Linked DNA regions of Homo sapiens. The protein of the gene in region 1 interacts with the protein of each later gene in a pairwise test. Each region holds a gene or a part of one and is shown in the gene's direction. Other genes may lie near its edges. The genes, in order: BRD1 and FEZ2.

The links.
Region 2: the proteins of BRD1 (region 1) and FEZ2 interact in a two-hybrid assay, tested with the Homo sapiens proteins (one study listed by BioGRID).

Annotation. Positions count from the first base shown.
Region 1 is NC_000022.11:49,794,815-49,804,975, reverse strand, and holds part of BRD1 (bromodomain-containing protein 1), read left to right. Parts: intron 1-615; coding exon 616-772; intron 773-5,856; coding exon 5,857-5,988; intron 5,989-6,289; coding exon 6,290-6,418; intron 6,419-6,858; coding exon 6,859-7,171; intron 7,172-10,161. UniProt on the Homo sapiens protein: Scaffold subunit of various histone acetyltransferase (HAT) complexes, such as the MOZ/MORF and HBO1 complexes, that acts as a regulator of hematopoiesis.
Region 2 is NC_000002.12:36,586,042-36,596,202, reverse strand, and holds part of FEZ2 (fasciculation and elongation protein zeta-2), read left to right. Parts: intron 1-5,191; coding exon 5,192-5,300; intron 5,301-10,161. UniProt on the Homo sapiens protein: Involved in axonal outgrowth and fasciculation.

The DNA of each region.
Region 1 (10,161 bases):
TCACATAGAAAGAATGAAAACTGTTGAAGGCTTTGCTCAGCATGTTTTCTTTTTGGATATTCAATCTGATAAATGTTGTAGTGAATGAGAAGTGGATGAAATCTTTTTTTTTTAATTTTATTTTTGAGTCAGAATCTCGCTCTGTCACCCAGGCTGGAGTGCAGTGGTGCGATTTCGGCTCACACCAACCTCCACCTCCCAGGTTTAAGCGATTCTCCTGCCTCAGCCTCCCAAGTAGCCGGGACTACACGCATGTACCTCCACATTCAGCTAATATTTTTGTATTTTTGGTAGAGACGGGGTTTCACCATGTTGGCCAGGCTGGTCTCAAACTCCTGGCCTCAAGGGATCCCCCCACCTCGGCCTCCCAAAGTGCTGGGATTACAGGCAGGAGCCACTGTGCCCAACCTAAAAAGTGGATGAAATCTTCAAATGGTTGGAGATCGTGAATTTTGTTTTAGCAGCACTAGGGATAGTAGAAATACAGGTGTCATGGCTTAGGGAGAAAAAGTATGAACACATGGTTTTGTTAGCAGTAGTACTGTCATTTCTAGTTTATGTGATGAAACATCTTAATGTACTGCTTCAAAGATACACTGAGTGTTTGTGTTTTAGGTTAAATAGGATTGCGAATCAGGTGGCCATTCAGCGGAAGAAGCAGTTTGTGGAGCGAGCCCACAGCTACTGGCTGCTCAAGCGGCTGTCCAGGAACGGGGCCCCCCTGCTGCGGCGGCTGCAGTCCAGCCTGCAGTCTCAGCGAAGCTCACAGCAGGTACGTGGCTCGTGGCCCCCACAGCCTTTCTGCGTCTCTCACCCCCACCCTCCAGGGAGAGGGCACCTGGTTCAGGCTGGTCACGGTGCTGCCCCCTGGGCTCAGGCTCCCCGTTGGGAAGCCTCCGTCTCGTCCAGCCCTGGAGCTGTAGGAGGAGTCGGGTGCACTGGGCTCTGGATCTGCGACTCGGGGGGTGATTCTCATCCATGCCTGTCACTGGGTGTTTCTTCCGTTTTGAGTTGCGCTCCCCCGCCCTGCCCTGCCCGCACACACGCTGATGGGCAGTGGCCAGCTCTGGGGACTGGGGATGCTCAGGGATGTGTTATGCTGTGGCTGCATGAGCGTCCGGGCTGGGGACAGCAGGAGTGGGACCCGGTGAGCACACCCGGGCCATGTGGGTGGGGGTCTGTGTGCTGGGCCTGGAGGGTGGGTTTTGGAAATATGTGAGGAGTGGTTTATTTCGAGGGCCTTGCTCTGAAGGTTGGTTTAGCTGGGACTGTGGTGGGGTGGGGAGGGCTCGAGAGAGCTGAGAGAGTGGGAGGGAAGGAGCAGGACTTTTCCTTTTTAAAAGAACAAACCCAAACTCTTACATTTTGATAGTAGGTTTGAGTTTATAGACTCATCTGATACTGTGAAACAGTTCTGAAAAAATGGGTTTACAGAGTGAAGTAGCTTCTGTGAGATGCACAAAAGTAATTGAAAACACAAGCAGCTCTGCACACGGCCCAGGACCTGCGGCCAGCGCCCTCTGCCCACGCTGCCTAGTGAGGAGCCGCTGGTCTTTTGGAAGAGCTGTCTGCTGCTGGCGTCGCGTGGCCTGAGTGCCTCTTGGAATTTCCTCATGGTGCTTTTCACTGCCATCCTGGGCACGAAGCGAAACCATCCTGCTCTGCTGTGAGGTGGTGACTTGCTCACAGGAAGCTTGAGTCTACAGGGTTCACGGTTGGGTCCCCGTGCGGTGGTGCGGTGGCCGGTGCTGTCTCTGCCTCGCAGACTCTGCCTCTGCAGCGTGAGCCCTGTTCAGTCACCTGCCGTGGCTGCCTTGTGCTCCAGGGAACTACAGAGTCTGGTGCTCTGGTCTGGCAGGTGGTGGTTTGTGGGTCTGATTTGGTGTGGTGGGGTCCAAAGTTTTCTGACGGCCTTGGTGCGTCTTGGCTGTGGAATATTCCAGGTCTCCCGTGCCGTCCACCTGGGTTGCCCCACTGTGTGTCTGTCCATGGAACTTGGGGCTCCCCGGGCAGGTCTGTGAGCCAGCCCCTCTCCAAGTGAGATCCTCACGTGTCCACAGAGTTGAGGCTTCAGTGAATGTCTTTTGGCTGTTGAATGAGTTAACCGCATCTTCCGTTCCATGATGTGACTTGGCTTTCCATCTCTCCTCTGTCCTCACCTCGTAGCCTCCAGGGCTCCTGGAAAGGACAGCACGGTTTGGGGGGCTCTTAAGAGGCCAGAGTCAGGAAGTGGCTGAGCGGCGGGAAGCTCTGGGGGCTGGAGGCATTGGTCTCGGCCCCCGCGATGTTGGGGAAAGGAAGAGAGTGGAGGCATTGGTCTCGGCCCCCGCGATGTTGGGGAAAGGAAGAGAGTGGAGGCATTGGTCTCGGCCCCCGCGATGTTGGGGAAAGGAAGAGAGTGGAGGCATTGGTCTCGGCCCCCGCGATGTTGGGGAAAGGAAGAGAGTGGAGGCATTGGTCTCGGCCCCTGCGATGTTGGGGAATGGAAGAGAGTGGAGGCATTGGTCTCGGCCCCCGCGATGTTGGGGAAAGGAAGAGAGTGGAGGCATTGGTCTCGGCCCCCGCGATGTTGGGGAAAGGAAGAGAGTGGAGGCATTGGTCTCGGCCCCCGCGATGTTGGGGAAAGGAAGAGAGTGGAGGCATTGGTCTCGGCCCCCGCGATGTTGGGGAATGGAAGAGAGTGGAGGCATTGGTCTCGGCCCCCGCGATGTTGGGGAAAGGAAGAGAGTGGAGGCATTGGTCTCGGCCCCCGCGATGTTGGGGAAAGGAAGAGAGTGGAGGCATTGGTCTCGGCCCCCGCGATGTTGGGGAAAGGAAGAGAGTGGAGGCATTGGTCTCCGCCCCTGCGATGTTGGGGAATGGAAGAGAGGCTTTTTTGGGAGGAAGTTGAGGGTTCAGATCTTGGGTCTTATCTCGGGGCTGGACAGAACTCCAGGTAAGTCACAGAGGAGCTGTTGAAGGGCAGATTCCATGGAAAGTGGGCATGGATGTGGCCAAACGGGACGTCCAGCGGTGGGAATCATCATTTCTACTCTCATAAGCTGGGACACGAGGGCCAGAATCCCTGCAGTAGCAGGACACGTGGGCCAGTGGGCAGGGGCCACGGGGACCCAGGCAGCTGGGGGTGGCCTGGGGCGTGGTGGAGCCAGGCAAGGGAAGGGGGAGGGTTGCAAAGAAGAGGTGACCCGCTGGAACCTGCCAGCTGGGCCCCCTCTGCTTCATCGCTGCCTGTTAGGCCTCACGTCCTGTTGTGTGCAGAATACGTTTGTAAGGAGAGAACATCCCCACAGCCCGGCCAGAGCAGCTCTTCTGGCAGAGGGGGCAGCTTCTCGAAGTCACCTGGGAAGGAGCAGAAGGAGCTGCCTGGACTTGAGCCGCAGCAGAGCAGTCGGCGTGGAGAGCCTGGAAACCTGCCTCTGTGTGAACGGGCTATTGGGAGAGACTGTGCTTCTGCCTTCTCCTGGCCAGGGATGGCCACGGCTTGGTGTGGTTTCATGGTTTTGAAGCTTTGGAAGTACCTGATGCATTTGATTCCTCTGTGTCTCTGTGTACCTGCCCCAGCCTGACCCTGTGGTGGGGGCAGGTGGATGAACTGGACGGGGTCTCTTGAGAGGCCAGCAGGCGCCGAGGGTGCTGCAGCGATGGCGGGTCTGTGCTGGCTGCGCATATAGGCCCTGGTTTTTGTTCTGGTGTGTGTGGCCGTTGAAGGCCGCAGGGAGAACGGGGGCGGCAGCTTAGCTTTATAAAGGGTGAGCAGCGATTTGTGTGTATGCTGGTGGCGTCCCACTGTCTCCTGCTCCCGTGGCCCACCCTTCCTGTCCTGGGAGCGCATCCTGCAGCTTTCCCAGTGTCTGTCCTGTGGCATGCTGGGCGCTGCTGCCCACATCGTCCTTGCTGTGCTGCGTGTGTGGCCTCTGCCAGTCCCACGCACCTGCTGGCGGCATTGGGCCCAGTGGCAGGAGCTGGGTGCTGTTGCCAGGAGGCCTGGGGTCGGCCACTCTGTAACACTGTGGGCCCTCACCCCAGGAGCTGGCCTGTCCTCCCAGCAGAGGCGATTTTAACCTGACCGTCGCCTAGCCCTGCCCTGTGTCTCCCCCATGTGTCTGGAATGGACGCGGAGGCGCTCAGCTTCTTCCCGGCAGTGGGGATGCCTGAGTGCTTCTTCACTTCTGTCCTTTCTCGTGGAGCCTCCCACTGTTGATTTTTACATGGGAAATATCGAGCCCTTGAGAGCCGAGTAAGGAACCTTGATCCTTCTGAGTGGATGAGGCTGCATGTGTCATGGGACCTTGGGCCCAGGTGCTGTCAACGGGGCCCCTGCCACTGCCGATGGCGTTTGTTAAACCAGGTTGGGGAGCAGACTAGTAAGTTTGCTTAGCAGCCAGTGCGTGATAAAGGGCTTCCTGGTGATGAGGAGATTTCTTCCGCTTCGTAACAGATTCCCAGGCCAAATGTCCTTTTGGCCGAGGTTTTCAGAAGTGTCGATTGCAAGCTGAGGGACAGGCAATACTCAGATGCTCCGGGGAGCTTGGTTTTTGGAGCCCACATTTTCCTGCCTTTGCTTGAGTTGATGTGGATCTTGTTACTCTTAGCCCCGATTTCCTGCCTGAGGGTGTTCAGCAGCATTGAGGAAAACCCAGAGATCCTCACTTCAGGGGACATCAGCGCAGCAACGCTCTGCCTCGCCATGGAGAGGCCTGGCCTTGGGGGTGGGGGTGCGGGGCTCGGCCTCCCTCCTTGAGCCTCCTTTTCTGAGCAGTTTGGAGTCCGGGGTCCTTGCATCTTGTAGTCCAGCAGTCTTTGCCTTCACACCCTCGGTCCTTTGAAAAGCTATGACAGTACCCTGAGGTGGGCAGGTGGGAACCCGGGGACAGAGGCGTTGGGGGAGAGGAGGGTCTCAGGGCTGTGAAGCATGTGCCAGAAACTGATGGCCACGGCTGTCCTGAGGCTGGCAGGGCGCGCGTGTCCTGCAGCTGTGGAGGATGACAGGTGTTGGGGGCCCACTCAGGCCAACTCCCTCGTTGACTTCCTCTCCCCTTTGAGGTAGGGTCAGGGTGCCCCGGCACTGTGACGAGCAGGCCTCATGCGGCCAGGCCTGGGGGACATGGTGAGGACAGGGCTGAGGGCAGACCCAGGTGGCCTACTCTCCTGCGACCATCTGTGTCATGGCCTTTGCAGGGCTCTGATTTTCTTCTGATCACCCTGGTGTGGATGTTGGCTGGGTTGAGGCTGGCGGCCTGTGCTGTCTGGCGCACTCTTCTGTCCACTGAGAAGGGAGCAGGTGCTATCAATGGAAATGGGACCCTGGCTGTGGGGAAACGTGTGTCGGGATGGAGGCGCTGTGCAGGGCAGGGCAGCAGGTCGGCTGTGTGCCAGGCCCCCGTCATGCTCTGTCCAAGCCAGGATGGGCCCAGCATGTGGTTTTCTGTGCACCTGGTTTCTTTCCAGCCGCTCCCTCCATTCCCAGCTGTCCTGGAGGTGGGTCCTCAAGGGTCCCCCATTCTGTCCTGGCCCCGCCTTTGTGGGCCTTTCTGGTTCTGTGAAGGCCCCCCCCGCCGCCAGCTTGCGGAGGCCTCTGTCCTCTCTGGAGGGTGGAACCTGTGCACCGGGGCCAGCCCCCTGCTCACCTTGGCCTGGCGGTCCCCTCTGTCCCCTCCATCCCCTCTGTCTCCTCTGTCCCCTCTGTCCCGGTGCTGTCCTGGGGCTCTCTAGTGAGGGTGGTCTGTTGTCCTCCCCAGGATGGGCCTGCAGGACCCCTGACGTGGATGCCTCTTGGGGTCTCACCTGCATGGTATCTGAGGCCTTTTGCAGAAGGAGCCTCTGGGTTTGACTGACGGAAGTGTTCACTGTTCTCAGAGAGAAAATGATGAGGAGATGAAGGCTGCCAAAGAGAAGCTGAAGTACTGGCAGCGGCTGCGGCACGACCTGGAGCGCGCTCGCCTGCTGATCGAGCTGCTGCGCAAGCGGGAGAAGCTCAAGCGTGAGCAGGTGGGGCTGGGCCTGTCCCGCGTGGAGTGCACCACTGGCCACGGGGCGTGGGTGGGACGCTGGCAGCTCCTGCAGAGGGTGGGCTGCACCCGGTGGGTCCTGGCCCACAGCAGTGCCTTGCTCAGCCCAGGCTGGGTGCCTGGCTGCCATGGGTTGCAGAGCCCTAAGTGGAGGCTGCGTTGTCCTATGCCTGGACGGAAGCACAGGAGCCTGTGGGGGCTGCTTGTGGCTGTGGGGCGCGTGGTGGGGCTGAGACGCATGTGCGGCTCCCTAAAGCTGAGGCTCTGCTGGGCCCCCCCAGGTGAAGGTGGAGCAGGTCGCCATGGAGCTGCGGCTGACCCCGCTGACGGTGCTGCTGCGCTCAGTGCTGGACCAGCTGCAAGACAAGGACCCCGCCAGGATATTTGCGCAGCCCGTGAGTCTGAAGGAGGTGGGTGTTTGCGGCGCTCGTCTGTCCTGCCGCATGTGTGACTGTGGATTTGTGCTGCCGTTTGACCGGGAAACGTGTGATTGGCTAGAGTACATCCCTTGTGTTCTTAATTCTCGTTTTTATTTAACGTATTTGTTTTTAAATTATAAAAGTGATACATTTCATTGTAAAATACTGAAAGTGCAGTGGGCAAGAGGCCCTGTGCAGACAGTACCCTGGGCTGTGGCAGCATCCGCCCGGCACCCTCCAGCGTGCTTTAGCTGAAGGAGCTGGGGTCGGGAAGGTCCCTGCAGTACTTGGGTCTTATGTCTGTACCGTCTGCGTGTCTGTGTGTGGCTCTCAGATAGGATGGGCTTGTGGGTTATATGGAATAATAAATATAGAGTCAACTAATATCCTGTTTTAGTTTGTAAATGATTCTTTTTCCTCCCTAAAATTAGGTACCAGATTATTTGGATCACATTAAACATCCCATGGACTTTGCCACAATGAGGAAACGGTTAGAAGCTCAAGGGTATAAAAACCTCCATGAGTTTGAGGAGGATTTTGATCTCATTATAGATAACTGCATGAAGTACAATGCCAGGGACACCGTGTTCTATAGAGCCGCGGTGAGGCTGCGCGATCAGGGAGGTGTTGTTCTGAGGCAGGCCCGGCGCGAGGTGGACAGCATCGGCTTGGAAGAGGCCTCGGGGATGCACCTGCCTGAGCGGCCTGCTGCGGCACCGCGGCGGCCTTTCTCCTGGGAAGACGGTAAGAACTGGCGCCGTGTCCGGAGGAGGTGGAAGACGCTCTTTCTAGCAGACTCTGTCCTGCTCTGTGTTGCCAGCTCCCTATCAGCATGGTCCGGGAGCCACTAGCATGCAACCGCATACATCATTTACATTTTCTAGTAGCCTCACTGAAAAATGGAAAAGAAGCAGGTGGAATTTACTTTAATAATATGTCTTATTTTACTCAGTGTATGGAAGAGTTGATTTCAACATGGGATCGGTAAACGTTACTGAGGATATATAAGCTTTTCACCTTCTTTGCCATCTGATGTGTATTTTACGCTCAGCACCTGTCACTTCAGACTGGCTGCGTTTTGGGTGCCCACCAAGAGGACTGTGTGGCTGTGGCTCCCTATGGGGTGGCCGGTCTCGACGATGCAGACCCAGAAAGCAGCTTAGTTGGGGGTTTTCATCCAGAGTGGGCCTCGGCTAACTTCTGAGGGTGGCGTGAAGCCGGAGGATCTCTGGCTTTGCCTCCAGCCCTTTAACTTCGTGGTTTGCGCATGTTGTAGAAAGGGCTCTGGGAGTGTGTCCACGGCCCACCTGGACTCCAGCCTGGGCTTGTGCTTCTTGGTTGCCCAGGCACGTGTTGCAGCCATGTGTAGTCACCTGCACCCTTCTCTAGACTGGTCCTCGGAAACCGGGGCTGTCCCCTGCACCCTGCTTGTTAGTCGCACCTCTGGGATTGTCTGTCGAAGGGTGTGTCCTGCCCACATGGGTTGTCAAAGCACATAGAGCTCCAGCACCTCAGCTCCAGCTCTGAGCCACAAACTGAGCAGAAATCACGGTGTGTTTGGCTTATTTGTCTAAAGGTCCCATATCCCTGATTTCTTGGCCTACCCTTTCTCTTGATGAATCACTGACCCGTGCTAGGTCGCTTCTTCTGGGATGAGGCCTGGCCCTCTTCCTCTCTTCCACGTTCCCGCCATCGCGGGGTCCACGTTCCCGCCATCGTGGGGTCCGCTTCCCGCCATCATGGGATTCAACCAAGCTGGGCCATCGTTGCTTCGCCCTCTGTTCCCCTCATGGCAGCAGTGCTGGGCTCCCTGCTTCCCGTGGGGTCCCGCAGCACTCGGCACCTGTGAGGATTGGAGGATGGGCTGTACTCTTTTAAAGACTGGGGATAGGGCCAGGTTCTGTGGCTCATGCCTGTAATCCCAGCACTTTGGGATACCGAGGCGGGTGGATCACTTGAGGTCGGGAGATTGAGACCGGCCTGGCCAACATGCAGAAACCCCGTTTCTACTGCAAACACAAAAAATTAGCCGGGCATGGTGGCGCATGCCTGTAATCCCAGCTATTTCGGAGGCTGAGGCAGGAGAATCGCTTGAACCTGGGAGGTGGAGGCTGCAGTGAGCGGAGATTGTGCCATTGCACTGAAGCCTGGGTGACAGAGTGAGACCCTATCTCCAAAAAAAAAAAGAAAAAAGAGAGAGGCCGAGGCGGGTGGATCACGAAGTCAGGAGGTCGAGACCATCCTGGCTAATGTGGTGAAACCCTGTCTGTACTAAAAATACAAAAACAAAATTAGCCAGGCATGGTGGCGGGCACCTGTAGTCCTAGCTACTCGGGAGGCTGAGGCAGGAGAATGGCGTGAATCCGGGAGGCGGTGCTCTCAGTGAGCCGAGATTACGCCACTACACTCCAGCCTGGGCGACAGAGCAAGACTGTCTCAAAAAAAAAAAAAAGAAAACACAATGGAAATATATTTTTATTCTTTGTCTCTGATTTTCTGATTTTAAGAGTAACACGTTTTTCTTGGAGAAATTTAGAAAATAAACACAGGCTCCAAACAGTGCTGCTGGCTCTTGGTGAACCCGGGTGGAGCTTTAACCCCTCTCTGAAGCTGCGCTCTCCAGGCTGATCAGACCAGCTATCCTTTTCCGAAACATTCCCTTGGGGACCTGAGAGGAGCCAGGGCTGAGCCGCCTCAGAGTGAGCCCAGGGCTCCATGGGCTCATGCTTGTCCTGGAAGGTCCTTCTCTAGCCTCTGGTGACCGTGGGAAAGCTTCCCCCGCCTCCCACAGCCATCACGCTCTGGCTTGGATGCCTTGCCTGCCATCAGCTCTCAGACGCCCACCTGGTGCCCGCTGCTGGCTGCTCAGGACGTACGCTGGTTGCCTGCCCTTCAAAGCAGGAAGATGCATCACTCTTGGACTCCCTGTCTTCTTAGCAGCCCGGAGCCTCCTTTGCCCCTAGGGCCCTGCTCCTGTGCTCCCCCACATCATGCTCCCAGCACCATGCCACCTCCCTCGAACAGAGCAGGTGTGGAGGCCTCTGAGTGTCAGCGCCTTTCAGATCATGGTCATGCAAGTTGTTAAGTGAATTTCTACACCCGGGTTTTTTTGCTAAGGAGAAAATGAAGGATGAGAAGTCCTGGTTTCTTTCTTTCTCAGTATTTGGGAGTGCACAGGTGAGCCAGTGGCCATGGTGTGCCTTGAGGGTGCACCTGCTGCTCTTCTCAGCACGGCCGACACCTCCCATTGCCTGGAGCCTGAGCCACAGACCTGGAGGCCGTGGGTCTCTGTTTTGAAAGAAACAGACGTTTCGAGGCTTTCTTCTTGGGGTTTCAAAGGATATGTTTTTTTGTATGAACATTTTTGAGTATTATCTATGACATTTGTTCAGAGTGATGTTATGGATACGAGTCTTGAAGGACTGATTTGTTTCTCTCTACTACTTTATTTATTCAGCCAAAGAGACAGATGCTTTCAGTAAAACACCTGTTTCTAGATGAAGAGAGTTCATGTGTTTTTGGGCAGTCTTACTTTTTTTTTTGTCTTCTCTCTCCTTCTTGCTCTGGTTTTATCTTCAGATAGCTCTGAGGAGCAGTTTCTTTTCTTGGCCATCTCTTACTTATTTAAGGTAATTTGTGCTTTATAAATTTTGGTGTTTTTGAAAGCGAAGTTTCTAGGGACTTTGTAGTAAATACGTCTGAAATTCAGAATGATCTGTGAATTTTACAACCCG
Region 2 (10,161 bases), on another chromosome or scaffold:
GGTTCCTCAGTACAGTGTTCTGCCCAGGTGTAGAGAAGGGAAACACTTATAATTGGATTTTATACACACATGCATGCCGTCAGTAGCAAAAGATGACATTTTTGGAAGCCTGTTCCCAAAGAGAAGATAATTTTATGTATATGTAGATTTAGATACTCTGAATCACTAAACCCAGGACACATTCTGGATTTAAAAATTAGTGTAGATGTATTATGTATTTGGGTTTTTCAAGAGTAGCTGACTTAAATCAATTAGAGGATTGTACGTAGATCGTTAAGAGTTTTTGTTTCACTTAGACCGTCAGGAGAGTAGGTTATTTTAGCCTTTGCTTAAAAATATTTTGTCGCTCTTGTTAATGGTATTTAGTAGATGATATGTTGGTGGTAATGCATGTCTCTTGACTTGGGAATGCATATGAAATCTCTTTTTTTCCGGGAGTTGGGAGCTGGTCATCACTGGCATTGTCCCTTTTATATTGCAAAAACATACTCATCATTGCTTGATAGTCTGTTCCAGTTCCCTTTTCACTAGATATAATTGATAATTGTTTTACTCAGATATTGCTGTGCTTTAGGTCAAGGGGTCCCCAACCCCTGGTCCACAGACCGGTACTGGAACTGGGCCACACTACAGGAGGTGAGTGGCTGAGTGAGTGAGCAAAGCCTCATCTGTATTTACAGCTCCTCCCCATTGCTTGCATTACCACCTGAGCCACCTCCTGTCAGATCAGCCACGGCATTAGATTCTCATAGGAGCGTGAACCCTATTGTGAACTGCACAAGTGAGGGTTCTAGTTTGCAGACACCTTATGAGAATCTAATGCTTGATGATCTGTCACTGTTTCCCCTCTCCCCCAGATAGGACCATCTAGTTGCAGGAAAACAAGCTCAGGGCTCCCATTGATTCTACGTTATGGTGAGTTGTAAAATTATTTCATGATATATGACAGTGTAATAATAGAAATAAAGTACACCGTAAATGTAATGTGCTTGAATCACCCCAAAGCCCTCCCCGACCCTTGGCACTTCATTTAACTTCTCTGAGCCTCAGCTTTTGTTTTGGTTAAATATGGATTGTATTTACGTACTGAGGTTTTACTTATAAGAGTATTCTGCAGGATTCGATGTTGGCAGGACTTTGACCTCCTTGCAAAAGAGCTGTCCTGACCGTTGTTTACGACTGGTTGTAATACTTGGTGATAAAGATGAAGGCAGTTCATATGTCTTGACTGCAGAATTCTAGAAATCTTTCACTAGAGTTGCCTCTGTGTCCTTCCAACTACCATTGTTTTGACCTTGGTGGAGACTGTTAGTTGGCTTTCATTTTCTTGGAAGATCAAACTCACTGACAGGCACTTCTAAGTGAAATATTCCATCCCATTTGCCTTTTTCTTATAGCCTTGTTTAAGAAGGAGCAAATCAGCAGACAAAGCAAACTCCTCAAATTCTGGACTGTCTTCACCTGCTAGTGTATCCTGCTTAAATTCCTGCCAGGATTAGGTCTATAGTCAGTGATACGGTTTGGCTGTGTCCCCACCCAAATCTCAACTTGAATTGTATCTCCCAGAATTCCCACGTGTTGTGGGAGGGATCCAGGGGGAGGTAATTGAATCATGGGGGCTGGTCTTTCCTATGCTATTCTCATGATAGTGAATAAGTCTTACAAGATCTGATGGGCTTATCAGGGGTTTCCGCTTTTGCTCCTTCCTCATTTTCCCTTGCTGCCGCCATGTAAGAAGTGCCTTTTGCCTCCTGCCATGATTCTGAGGCCTCCCCAGCCATGTGGAACTGTAAGTCCAATTAAACCTCGTTTTCTTCCCAGTCTCGGGTATGTCTTTATCAGCTGCATGAAAATAACCTAATATAGTAAGTTAGTACCAGTAGAGTGGGGCGTTGCTGAAAAGATACCTGAAAATGTGGAAATGACTTTGGAACTGGGGAACAGGTAGAGATTGGAATAGTTTGAAGGGCTCAGAAGACAGGAAAATGTGGGAAAGTTTGGAACTTCCTAGAGACTTGTTGAATGGCTTTCCCAAAATGCTGACAGCAATATGGACAATAAAATCCAGGCTGAGGTGGTCTCAGATGGAGATGAGGAAGTTGTTGGGAACTGGAGCAAAGATGACCCTTGTTATGTTTTGGCAAAGAGAACTGGTGGCATTTTGCCCCTGCCCTAGAGATTTGTGGAACTTTGAACTTGAGGGAGATGAGTTAGGGTATCTGGCAGAAAAAATTTCTAAGCAGTAAAGCATTCAGGAGGTAACTTGGGTGCTATTAAACGTATTCAGTTTTATAAGGGAAGCAGAGCATAAAAGTTTGGAAAATTTGCAGCCTGACTATGCGATAGAAAAAAAAAAAACCCATTTTCTGGGGAGAAATTCAAGCTAGCTGCAGAAATTTGCGTAAGTAGCAAGGACCCTAATGTTAATCCCCACGACCATGGGGAAAATGTCTCCAGGCCATGTCAGAGACCTTCATGGCAGCTCCTCCCATCACAGGCCTGGAGGCCCAAAAAGGAACAAGTGGTTTCGTGAGCTGGGCCTAGGGTCTGCCTGCTGTATGCGGCCTAGGGACTTGGTGCCCTGTGTACCAGCTGCTCCAGCTGTGGCTGAAAGGGGCGAGAGTACAGCTCAGGCTGTGGCTTCAGAGGGTGCAAGCCCCAAGCCTTGGCAGCTTCCATGTGGTGTTGAGCCCACAGGTGCACAGAAGTCAAGAATTGAGGTTTGGGAACCTCCTTCTAGATTCAGAAGATGTATGGAAATGCCTGGATGCCCAGGCAAAAGTTTGTTGCAGGGGCAGGGCCCTCATGGAGAACCTCTGCTAGGGCAGTGTGGAAGGGAAATGTGGGGTTGGAGCCCCCACACAGAGTCCCTACTGGGGCACTGCCTAGTGGGGTTGTGAGAAGAGGGCCGCTGTCCATGAGTTTATCAGGGGTTTCTGCTTTTGCATCTTCCTCCTTTTCTCTTGCTGCCACCATGTAAGAAGTGCCTTTTGTCTCCCACCATGATTCTGAGGCCTCCTCAGCCATGTGGAACTGTAAGTCCAATTAAACCTCTTTTTCGTCCCAGTCTTGGGTATGTCTTTATCAGCTGCATGAAAATGGACTATACAGTCATTCAGTGTTTGAAAATTTCTTATCCAGGAAGGTATGAGCCAGAAACCCAGCAAGTTTAGTAGTCCACAGAAACCCAGCAAATTTAGTAGTCCACAGACATTGCCTCTAATTCTACTTCACTGGCATTAGAGGAGATATTCCAACAGAGAGGAGAATAGGAATGGACTGTGCATATGGGAGCTTTGCTGGGTAGATGAGTTAGTTCTCTAGAGATTTTTGGGTTCACATTTTTATTAAGGCTAATTTTATTTTTTATTTTATTTATATATTTTTAGAGACAGGGTCTTGCTCTGTCTCCCAGGCTGGAGTACAGTGGTGCCATCATAGCTCACTACAGCCTTGAGCTCCTGGGCTTAAGCAGTCCTCCTGCCTTACCCTCCAAAAGTAGCTGGGACTGCGGCACATGCCACAGGCCTGGCCAATTTTTTTTTTTTTTTTTTTTTTGTAGAGATGTGGGGCTCCCTTTTGTTGCCCAGGCTGGTCTTGAACTCCTGGCTTCAAGCAATCCTCCCACTTTGGCTTCCCAAAATGCTGGGATTACAGGCATGAGCCACCAGGCCCATCCCTAACGTGCATTTTAAAGCCAAACATCATTTGGGATGTTATGCTTTTAGCCGTTGCAGTCCTATTGCTTCTTTTTAGCGCCCAATCCCTATTTGTTAACTATGTTATGTCTGTATTTTAAAATTTTCATTCTTGGGCTTAATACCTAGGTGATGGGTTGATAGGTGCAGCAAATCACCATGGCACATGTTTGCCTGTGTAACAAACCTGCACATCCTGCCCATGTACCCCGGAACTTAAAAAAAAAATTCATTCTTATGTTTATGCCCCAGCCAGGATTGTTTTTGTATCCTAGTGTCTTACACACTTGGAAAGAAAGCCTATTGCTTATTCACAATTAGATACCTAATAAACATTTTAGGGTGTTTTTTTCTACATGACATCTTTGTGTATACCTCTAGCTAGTAAGTAGCTTGTATGTTTAGTGTTTGATTTTACGTATCCCAATTAGATTTCAAGTCACTTGTATCTCTGAACTTTAGTTTTTCATAAAACATCATGTTTTATTGTGCTGATTATTACTTTGGTATTGAAACCTGAATTTTGGTTGTGAAATTTGAGTTTGGTGTTCTTATCTGGTGTGGTTTGGGACTCTCTTCAATACACCTCATTTGAATTAATGCTTAGAGTAATGGAGCTGGAAGGAGTATCTGCTTCTTGTCCAGGTCTCTCATTTATAGAAGGGCAGAGGATACCTAGGGAGGTTAAGGGGCCTGGCCAATGACTCGTTATTTGAAGAAGGATGGAGATGAGAGTTTGTTTCCCTAGTCTCAGTCAAATGCCCTTACCATTTGACCCTCTTGCCTCCCTGTAATGCTGTTGGGTAATAAGGTCAGGTAACTGCATTGGATAGAGCCTGGGTGTGTTTTATTGTGAACTCCCTCTCTTTCTCCTTTTTGTTGTATCTGCCTTAGTGCTTAGCTTCTTTATTACAAATTAGATATTAAATCCTGTTCTCACATTGAGAGCGAATTCTTTCTCCAGAAAGGATAACAAACCTTTTGTTTGAGAGAGATTTTTCACTTTTTGAAATGGTCTGTTTGTTTGAAGTTACAGAAGAAAAATAAGTGTAATGCACAGTTGTATTTATTATTCATGTGACCCTGGAAACATTTCTTCCCCGCCCTGTGTTTCAGTTTCTTCATCTGTAAAATGAGGTTAATAATGGTTCCCCCTTCTAATGTTGTTTTTGAAGATTACATGAGTTAATACATGTAAATTGCTTAGAACAGTGCCTAGCACCTAATATAATGGAAGTGTTGCCTACTGCCTATTGGCAGTTTTCTGTACGGCTTCACCTTCCCTTAGGACTTCTTGTCAGCCCAGTTATGTGATTTTTCACCTCGTTTTTGTTTAGGAGACTCTACTTTGTTGATGTTTTTCTGAGAAACAATGTGCTGTCTGTTTTTCTCTGTTTCCTTTGACATTTGCTGTTCATCTTTCACTGAATATTTGTTTAAGAAAGACATACAGAATGTTAATTTTCATTGATTGTAGCTTTCTTCTTTTTAAGGATTTGGAATGCCCTGACAGATAATTATGGGAATGTGATGCCTGTAGACTGGAAGTCATCGCATACTAGGACCTTGCACTTGCTTACTCTGAACCTCTCAGAAAAAGGGGTAAGTTAGGAATTGAACCAATAGTGTTTGAATAACTGATGCTGATAATAGAACTAAAACAGTAGCATTTCTGCTTAACACAGATTCACTGACCTGCCTCTCATTTCTGAAATTATAGCAGTTTGGGTGGCTCTGTCTTGATGTCTTGGCTGTAGGGCCATCACCTTGCTGGCACATTCCTCCAGTTCTTCTCCAGCACACTCATTTTTTATGTGTAGCTAAATTTCCATCACAATTTTTTTTTTTTTGACGGAGTCTCACTCTGTTGCCCAGGCTGGAGTACAGTGGCTTACTACAACCTCTGCCTCCTGGGTTCAAGCGATTCTCCCACCTCAAACTCCCGAGTAGCTGGGATTACAGGCATGAGCCACCAGTCCCGGCTAATTTTTGTATTTTCAGTAGAGACAGGGTTTCGCTGTGTTGGCCAGGCTGGTCTCGAACTCCTGACCTCAGGTAATTCACCTCCCAGAGTGCTGGGATTACAGGTGTGAGCCACTGCACCTGGCAGTGATGATGCACTGAAACACTCAGTAAAATTTGGTGCACTGAAACCCTCAGTAAAAATGCTAGCCTTTGGTTTAATATACTGAGAGTATTGGAATCTCAACACGGAGTTAACTTTTTAATGAGTGTAGTGACCTGCTAGACATGATATGTTGTCAGGAGACTGTGTATTCCTGTGAATACTGGAGAACCTTTAAAAGATATTTTAGTTCTTGGCTTTTAAAATACGGTCTTGGCTAACTTACCTTTCTTGGGGTCTCCTGTGTACATCCTGGTATTGTAAAGTGAAGATGTCTTGACTAAGAAGTGTGAGCACGAGTGGTGGGACAGGTAGGGAGGCAGAAAAGGGTTGAGAATTACTTGAAATGGAAAATCACAGTGTTAAGCTTTTTTAAATCTGATGAGAAACATATCCAAATTATCTAAGTTTCAGGGCCTGGCTGTTTAAGTTCCTTATCAAATAATAATGTAAACTCATGCCAGATCTTCTTGCGTGCTCTATATTTCATTAAGTGTAATTATGTGATTATTGAGAATATAGTGCAGTAGGCCTGTCACTATTTTACATAGTATTGTTAATGTTTTGTTAAAAGGATTTTCTTACATATGTGATCAGAAAAGCCTACTGTTATTATTTTCTAGTAAAATGTAGAATTCTGGCTGTATTTCCCAGTATTCAGTAGCTATGGAAATCTTCCTGACTGTGCCAGTCATTAATCCCATTAAGCTTTGCAGACTGACCTGGCATATATTTAATGAAAAGGAATAAAATGAGGGATCTTTTGCTCTGTCTTGTTTACTTAGGTCCTGGCTATCATTTTGGGCTTAGTTCAAGTTTCCCTTCCTCTCTGAAGCTTCCTATTACTGTTTTAGCCTTTGCTGATCTCATGGAATTATACAATTTTAGAGTTGGAAGGGGCTTTAAAGGACACTTAATCCAGCCTCTCACTTGGGGGGAATCCTCACCTCCAGCATCTCTGACAGATGGTCATTTAGCCATGGCCTAAATTCCTGCACGGAAGGAAAACACACTCCCCTCTAGGGGAACTGATGGCACTTGTGGGGTTGTGAACTTTGAAAGGACTTGTTATCTGTGCCACGGGGTTTAGCCTTGCTGTCTCATGGGTGCTAGTCCCCAGATCACTTTGTCCCTGTCTCTAAAATTACCACTGCCTTCTCTTGTTAATCATATGTTTCTGGGTCTGTCACTAGATTGTGACTTCCCGGCAGGTATTTGTATTTGTCTTTATAGTAACTATACTGTTCCTGGCACATAGTAAGTTTGAAGATACCTTTTTATTGAGTGAATAAGTGAATAGCCTTGTCAGTGAAACTGTAGGGCCAGAGATCGTGATAGAAAGGTTTTAAAAAAATATTTTCTATGTTATTTAAAATAATGCAGAATGCACCAAAACCAGTCCATGGGTACTACTTTTTTGACATATTAAAAAATAGCATAGAAGAGTTTCCATTCATAGTTTCAAAGTCAGGCCCATTAGCAGCGTGAGTGAGACAGTTTAATCCAATTTCATTGACTAAATGTACAGCGGGCCCACCATATTCTCTGGTTTCACATCTGCTGCTTTAGCCAACTGTGGATTAAAAAACTTGAAAAAAAAACCCCACAATAAAATAACAACACAACAATTGAAAATAATGAAAATAAAAAACCGAAAACCGATACAATATAACTTTATAATATAAATATTGTATAGTTATATACAATATAACTATAAACCATTTACCTTGTATTAGGTATTATAAGTAATTTACATATAATTTAAAGCTTATAGGGGGATGTGCACAGGTTATATGCAAATACTACCCCACTTTATATAAGGGACTTGAGCATCTGCAGATTTTGCTATTGGGGTGTCCTGGAACAAATTTCCCTTGGATACCGAGGGACTGCTGTATGTCTTGTATTGTTCTTAGATTGCATCTTGGGAGGTTGCTCCCTTTTGCTGCCTTTTGAATGTTATTTTCAATGCCACGGTAATGATATGGCCAAGGCAGTGATTAGTAATGACGTAGAGTTTAATGCTAGTACTGACATTAAAAAGCCTTACCTGGCTGGGCGCGGTGGCTCATGCCTGTAATCCCAGCACTTTGGGAGGCTGAGGTGGATGGATCACCTAAGGTCAGGAGTTTGAGACCAGCCTTACCAACACGGTGAAACCCCGTCTCTACTAAAAATACAAAATTAGCCAGGCGTGGTGGCGCATGCCTGTAATCCCAGATACTTGGGAGGCTGAGGCAGGAGAATTGCTTGAACCTGGGAGGCAGAGGTTGCAGTGCGCCGAGATCACGCCACTGCACTCCAGCCTGGGTGACAGAGCGAGACTCTGTCTCAAAAAATAAAAAAAAAAACAGCCTTACCTGGAAAAACTCAGCAGATGAAAGTGAACACGTGATCATTCACCTATCATCTCTCTGTTGTGACATGACTATTCTGGTGATGAATAGAATTGAAATCAGAACTCTGTTTCTCAGGGAGGATTAGCACACACTGAGTTTCTGAAAAACAAATGGGCAATAAGGACTATGTAAGAAGTCATCACGTCATTCTATTACATGGTATATAATTAAGCATTTTTTTTTTAATCTGGCAAAGTGACTGTATTTACCATTGCCACCTGGTGCTCTGTTCGTGCCGTGACTAAGCTATGTAAAATTTACCCTTTGAAAGCATTCTTTAGATTATTTTACTTATAAAACCAAGTGTATAGAAATTTTTTTTGACAAAAGAAGAATGGTTTTTGCATTAAAAAGAGAAAAACATTCAGGAAAACTAGTTTGCTAGATTGCAGTTTTAAATTTTTCTTTGATTGAAGATTAAGATGGCACACTTCTAAATTTGATATGTCTTTTTTAGAGTAAGGCAACTGGTATCTTTCAAATTCTTACGTGGGCACATTTTTTCCATTTGATGTATCTTCAGTTTTATACAGGGAAACAGTACCACCAGGTCTGTATCTAACCCTGGCATTGGAAGGAGTGATGGGAATGCTTGGCAAAGAGAAGGCACATTTAATGCTGAAGGGAGGAGTGAATAATGATACCCATGACAGCCAGGGCTAGTTTGCAAAGCCTGAAAGATATTCCAGCTCTTAGCATATGCCATCTCTGTGGGGAATGGACTTGGCTCTCTCTCTGGAAAGATGATCTGGGATCATTTCTGTTGTCATGGAAATTTATTATAATAGTTTACTGTTATTACTCATGTGTTTTGGCCATAACCCTATTCTAAATCTGGTGCCATTCTTGAATATACTTATATGATAGAATGCTTATCATTCATTTCAGCTTAAGAACATCTTCTGTGCTGTATTTCTCCTTCCATGTGCATTTCTTTCAGGACAGGGACTTTTGTATGCATCTTTATACCTTTAAGAGTAGAAATAAGAAAAAGATAATGTCTTCCACAGAAGCAATTTGATTGATTGATAGATTGAGAGAGTGTCTCCCTCTGTTGCCCAGGCTGGAGTACAGTGGCGCCATCATAGCTTACTGCAGCCTCCAACTCCTGGGCTTAAGCGATCTTCCCGCTCCAGCTTCCTGAGTAGCTAGACTACACACGAGTACCGCCATGCCTGGCTAATTTTAAGAAAATATATTTCTGTAGAGACGAGGTCTTCCTGTGTTGCTCAGGGTGGTCTTGATGTCCTGACCTCAGGAGATCCTCCCACCTTGGCCTCCCAAAGTGTTGGGATTACAGGTGTGAGCCATGGCAACCTGGGCTTCCTTAGGAGTAATTTTTTTTTTTTTTTTTGAGACATGGTCTGGCTCTGTTGTCCAGGCTGGAGCGCAGTGGCACCATCTTGGCTCACTGCAACCTCCACCTCCTGGGCTCAAGTGATCCTCCCACCTCAGCCTCCTGAATAGCTGGGACTACAGGCATGTGCCATCATGCCTGGCTAATTTTTTGTAGCAATGGGGTTTCACCATGTTTCCCAGGCTGTTCTCAAACTCCTGAGCTCAAGCAATCCACCCGCCTCAGCCTCCCAAAGTGCTGGGATTACAGGCATGAGCCACTGTGCCCACCCCGGATTAATTTTAAAATTAAAACTTTTAGTATTTATAAGCCAGAAGGGGAAAAATAAAACAAAATCATGGTCCTCAAGTTGCAACATAGGAAGAGTGATTGGGAAGGGGGTGTGAAGTGTTCGAAGTGTAAGGATCGATGAAACTAATCGGTAGGTCTACTCCATGGTATCGACATGCCTTTGTGATCACAGTGTGCCACATTTTCATCTTCTACAGTATAGAAATCATACATCCCCTCTCATCAAGAGCCTAGTCTCTTGATCTTTCTCCTTCTTTAAAAAATTAAATTATTAAAGGAACAGCTGTCATA